Homo sapiens: one gene and its partner. The protein of the gene in region 1 purifies or fractionates together with the protein of each later gene. This does not show direct contact. Each region holds a gene or a part of one and is shown on either strand. Other genes may lie near its edges.

Evidence for each region.
Region 2: the proteins of TWIST2 (region 1) and ZBTB20 purify together in Homo sapiens (affinity purification with mass spectrometry; one large-scale study listed by BioGRID and IntAct). This does not show direct contact.

Annotation. Positions count from the first base shown.
Region 1 is NC_000002.12:238,906,395-238,908,907, forward strand, and holds part of TWIST2 (twist-related protein 2), read left to right. Parts: intron 1-2,513. UniProt on the Homo sapiens protein: Binds to the E-box consensus sequence 5'-CANNTG-3' as a heterodimer and inhibits transcriptional activation by MYOD1, MYOG, MEF2A and MEF2C. Also represses expression of pro-inflammatory cytokines such as TNFA and IL1B.
Region 2 is NC_000003.12:115,140,544-115,144,388, reverse strand, and holds part of ZBTB20 (zinc finger and BTB domain-containing protein 20), read left to right. Parts: intron 1-3,845. UniProt on the Homo sapiens protein: May be a transcription factor that may be involved in hematopoiesis, oncogenesis, and immune responses. Plays a role in postnatal myogenesis, may be involved in the regulation of satellite cells self-renewal.

The DNA of each region.
Region 1 (2,513 bases):
CCAGCACTTCCACGGGAAAACACATGCACTCACACGGATGCGCACACACACATACACATGCATACTGACACTCCCACAGGGACACACAGACCCACTCATGGATGCACATGCTCACACACATGCATGCACACTGGCACACACACGGGCCAACTTACACGATACACATGCTCACACAATTTACACAACTTGCACATGGACACACACTCACTCTGGACATTCTTTCATACTCACACTCACTCTCACACTAGTGGGCACACTCACAGACACACACACGGGATGTCACCGAGCACCACGTCACCCGTCCCTCCAGCTTCCACATCCTCCCCCCAGTGCCTGGGGCCTCCCTGGACCTCCTTCCCTGTGGCAGAATCCTCACGGTGACCCCTCTCCTGGCGGCCGCCTTGGGGAGCCCATGCCTGCCTCTGGGCTGACACCCACCCCTCCCACCACGCTCAGCCGCTCTGCGGGAGGAGGGTCTCGTTGCGCTGGTTTGCCCCTTGGCTCAGGGGAGTTCTCCAATAATTCTCGCTGAACACTCACCTCCCGCGAGCTCTGCAGGTCAACTGGCTGTTCTCATGTTTGTGCAAGAGGTGTGGGAGTGAGCACTTACACGGCCAGGCCCTGTGGTGAGCAGTAAAGGTCCCAGGTCGCAGGGCCAGTCTTCAGCGATCCCTGCTAGAGCTCAGGTCTCCTGGCAGGACAGCAACACAGCCTGGGGGCTGCTGCAGGCTGGCCTGGGTGTGTGGCAGAAGCGGCCCTGAGGCGCGGCGCGGGGCCCACCTGTGTTCGCCACACTCCCGACCAGGTGCTGATGCCAGTGGCGTGTCCCCTGCCCTGTGGGCCCCACTGAGGTGGCCCAAGACCTTGGGCTTATGACACCACATCCCTGTACACCCTGGGTCTCAGACGCTGGCCCCGGCCACCTCTCAGCACCTTCTCTTTGAGCTTGGCAGGCACAGAGGGAGGCGCGGGATTGGGGTCCCCACCCCGGCTTCCTGGAGGACCTGGACTTTCCTCCTGCCTGTGTCTCCTCCCCCTGCAGGTGGGAACCAGGCTCTGGGTAGCGCCTGAGCGGGTTCTTTCCCCAAGGCGCTCCCGGGACAGCTGGTTGCAGCCCCAGAGCTGCACCAAGCCTGGCACACCCACAGTTTGATTGGCCCACAAGTGCGCTTAGAAGTCACTTGTGTGGCATGAGGGGACCTTGTGGGGCTGGAAGAATTGTGTGTCTTGATCATAGTGGGGGGTGCAAGAAACAACACGCATGATGAAACTGCAGGAAGTACACATACACCACTCACACACACACACAAATGCACACAATACACACACAAACACACACATAAACGCACACAACACACACACAAAAACACACAAACACTCCACATACCCACTTACACACATAAACACACACCACGCGCCACACAAATATACCACACACTACACACACACCCCCACACTGTACATACACACCACATACACACACACCACACAAACACACTACACCCCCACTTACAAACACACACCACCTACACCACACACAAACACACATCACATGGCACACAAACATACCACACACTACACACACACCCCACATTGTACATACGCACCACATACACAAACACATACCACACAAACACACCACACCCCCACATACACACACAAAGTCACGCCACATACACCACACACCATACAAACATACCACACACACAGACATACCACATACACATACACATAGATACCATACCATACACACTACCCACTACATACCACATATACATACCCCACACCACACACACATACACACGCCACACTGTACACATATACCCCCCATACAAAATACAATCCCCCAAACACACACCACATACACCATGCACCATACATACCACACACTACACACACACTTCACACTGTACATAGACACCACATACACACACATACCACACACACAAACACACCACACCCCACATACACACAAACACAAACCACATGCACCACACACCACACAAACATACCACACACTGCACACACCACACATACCACATACACACACATGCACACACATACAACATACCATGTACACTACACACTATATACCACACATACATACCCCACACCACACACACCCACACGAGTGACATGTGAATAAGCTCTTGGTCCATACTGGTGCCAGATGCCTGGGTGTGACGTGACGACACCACTGTATGTGTGGCATATAATGTGGTATATAATATACCATATGGTATGTTGTCTGTGTGGATATGTATGTGGTATGTTTGTGCAGTGTGTGGGGTGTGTGTAGTATGCAGTGTGTTTGTGCTGTGCAGTGTGTGTGTGGGTATGTGGGGATGTGGTGTGTTTGTGTGTGGTATGTGTTTGTGTATGAGGTGTGTATGGACAGTGGGATGCGTGTGTAGTGTGCGGTATGTTTGTGTGGTGTGTGGTGTGTGTGATGTGTTTGTGTGTGGGAGGGTGTGGTGTGTTTGTGTGGTGTGTGGTGGTGTATGTAGTGTGTT
Region 2 (3,845 bases), on another chromosome or scaffold:
GAAAGTTTTCAGAAGACTTTTTAGACAAATTGGACTTTCTAGTAAAAAGGCTAGTCTGAATAATTAGGTAAATTGGACTTTCTAGAAAAAAAGGCCAGTCTGAATAATTAGGTTGTTTTAGAAGGGCAATAAAAGCTACAGCTAAGTTCCTGCGATCTATAATTTATAAAATAATTACATATTATTTTGAATAACTTCACAGAATCAGTGGCAAGCAGAGACTTCTTCAAAAACATTTGGAATACGGAAGTAGAGATTGATGGGCTTTGCTTTAGTCTCTGAAATAATCATATTTTTCTGAAATGGATGGTTAAATTTATCATATTGTTCTAGACACTTGGAGTGTAATAATGAACAAGAGAGAAAATTGCCTGCCCTTGTGGAGCTTACATTCTAATGTCACACACACTTTGTGCATTTTAGATTGTTAGGGGAGGAGATTTTTTAATGAAACTTTAAAACCTAGCTGCTTTCTTGTCTTAGGAACTACAGTTTGAAAGAGCCTACAGAAGTTTGAGAAGGAGGAAGGTGTTTACCAGTTGGCAGTGATAGGAAAGAAAGATCTTAGTTTATTTCTTATTTGTACCTTTTGTTATTGTCATGAAACTTTCTCCATATATTTCAGTTGGTAATTTTAACAGATAGGGATTTTTTTCATGATTTTAATAATGTCTTTGAAATTAATAAAACGTTGCTTTATATTAAAAAAATCTTGTGTCTTGAAAGTTACTATAAAATTCCTACATAGTATTATCCCGTTAGCAAAGTATGGTAAAACAAAAGCTAGAATATCTGTTAATTTTTGGTTGGGATTTGTTTTTAGGAACATATCTGAAAAATCAAGTACCTAAATCTTTTTCAGTTCTGGGTTTCTTTTTCGTTTTTTGAGATGGGAATCTCCTTTTATTGCCCAGGCTGTACTTTAACTCCTGGGCTCAAGTGATCCGCCCTCCTGCCTCAGCCTCCTAGTAGCTGGGACTAAGGTGCATGCCACCATGCCTAGTTTCAGTTGTGATTTTATCAAGAGAAGGTGAAAATTTATTGTAATTAGTTTATAGGCGACATTAAAGAGGAGAGACCTGCAAAAAATGCTTTGTTATTTAAACCATTTTTTCAAAAGCATTTGATTGGCACTTTTCTGCTTTAATAGACTTATTTGTAATGCAAGAGGAACATTACAGAAGATTTTAGCAATACTTTAATCATTTAGTCTGTAGGTGTAAAAATCCTGGGTTTCTAATAGAAGGAAAGTTGGTACCTGGTTAAATGAGTATATGATTTAATGCTGAGATTGTGACTTCAAGTAGTGGGTGTCTCACCTTTCCAAAACCTAGTTCATAGTTCTCAAATAACAGTTTTTCCTTTTTAATTTTTTTTCCCATCTGTCATGGTGAGTCTTACTTTGTTAGCCAAATACAAGTTTAGTTCTTAAGTGGAATAACTTTTTTTAATACAATCCTCCCTCCTCCAGCCCTCCCATCCTGTGCCGTGGAGGGTTTGTCACGCTTATACCTACATTAGATCTCTATTTATGCTAATTTGGAACATAATCAGCCTCTTCCAGGAAGGGTACATATTAATGCACTTTAGAGCAGTTTGTGATTGCCTCTGGCTATTTGTATACGGACTTGCCAGCATCTGAAAACTATAAATAGGAAGATTTAGGAGGAAACAGACTTTATAACTAATGGAATACATTGTTTCAGTTGAATTTTTTTTTTTTTTTTTTGATGGAGTCTTGCTCTGTCGCCAGGCTGGAGTGTAGTGGCACAATCTTGGCCCGCTGCAGCCTCCCCTCCCAGATTCAAGCAATTCTCCTGCCTCAGTCTCCTGAGTAGCTGGGACTACAGGCGCGCACAGCCACGTCCTACTAATTTTTTTGTTATTTTTAGTAGAGACAGGGTTTCACCATGTTGGCCACGATGGTCTTGATCTCCTGACCTCGTGATCTGCCTGCCTTGGCCTCCCAAAGAGCTAGGATTACAGGTGTGAGCCACCGTGCCCAGCCTCAGTTGAATTTTTTTTAAAGAGCAAAATGGAAGAATGGCTAATTGAATGTTAAAAAGTAAGACCATTTCCTGTTTTCTGGTAAGGATGGTTGATCGATGTGTGTTTGCATGTGTGTGTGAGTATATATTTATAAATGAGCAGTTTTTGAATAAAGACATATCAATACTGGATAAATAATTCCAGTCCTGCCTGTGGTCCTTGACATGGAGTGTATTCAGGGTTCCCTGGTGATTTTGTTTAAGCCACTTTGTTACCAAAACTTTCCTATGGATAGCATAGAAACACAAGCTAATTAAATTTCTATAAATTTTATATTTTTGGGATGAAGTGTTATTTTGGAAGTATTTTTTTAAGCATGATTACCAGCCAACCTGTGAAATGAATGAAATCTGAAGTGCAGAGTTCATGGAACCTTATATCCACCTAAGATAGTTGAGTTTCAAGAAGGTATTTTTAACGGCAGAAGATGAAATCTTGACATCTATCAAGTTTTTATAGTAATAAAGTAAGCATGACTAAGTTTATTAATATTCATATTTGTAAGGTAAGTCTAAGCATGTGTACAGTGCATTTTAAGTCAAAATTTGGGGTGTTATTGGCTAGACACAGTCATTTCTTTGCCAGAGATACTAGGCTGTGTGAAGGCTAACCATCTGTCAAGTGATAGAGACAAAGAAAGGTTTTAATATACTAGTCTAAAATTTCCACAAACTTGTTTTGAATGGTATTGTCATTTTCTTTTGGCCTTCATACTCTGTGTTGAATATGCACTGGGTCAGTCACCCTACTTTGTTTTATGAACAAACTATTCAAGGTCCAGATGAGGTTATTGTCACAGCTGATGTGATCTAGAGGCAAGATAAAATATGTTTTGATTTTGCTTTCATATAATCAAAAACTCACAGTGGGCCACCCACTAGTAGTTACACAAATGGTTTCAAGTGTACTTGTTTTCACCCACCCATTCTGAATTTTGGGTGTCTTAATTATTTTGCTTTATGTATTCAAGCCTTGTATTTCAAACCCATTCCTGAGCTGTTTGGGGGAAGAAAAAGTAGCAACAGGAATCCAGATTGCCTGTTTTAGGTACAATATGGTGTGATGTGAAATTGAAACAGCAGATTGGTGAGAAACTTTAGTTTCAAACAAATATAAACTAGTTTGTTTAGTGAAGTCATACACAAAACAGTAGTCTCTATTGACAGGGCAATGTTTTTTTCAGTGATTCCCATATCATGAGGTCACTTTTGTTCTTTGGGCCAACAGTCTGTTTTCAAGGTGTCATATAAGAAAAGCACTAAATACTGCTGATTGTAATGATATACTTACATATGGCAGCACAAGAAATTATTTATAGCAGTGCTAATTATATCAATAAAAATAGCAATATTAATACTGTGTCAAAATCCATTCTTGACAGTATGAGGTAAACAGAACTATAGTCAAACAAAGCAGCCAGCCTGTCTTTACTGTCAGCTCACAGATATGCACTTTAAGAAAAATATACACACAGTTTAGAGAGTTGAGTGTACCAATTTAATCTCTTTTCAATTACTTTTGGCTTTTAAAAAGATGTTCTAATTCAACATAATATTAAAAAGATTTTGATTTTTAATTTTGAAACTCTTGGTACCCATTTTCTTACTGTCATTAGTAAGTTTCTAGAAATGTATTTGTATTTCACTGCTTTATAAATTATCAGAAATTCATTTTAGTGTGCCCTCATTTTGGAGCACAGATTACCATTACAAAAGGAAACTATTAATAGAACAATCTCTAACAATTTACAAAACAAAACAAAACAAAGACCCCTACCACCACCACACACACATACA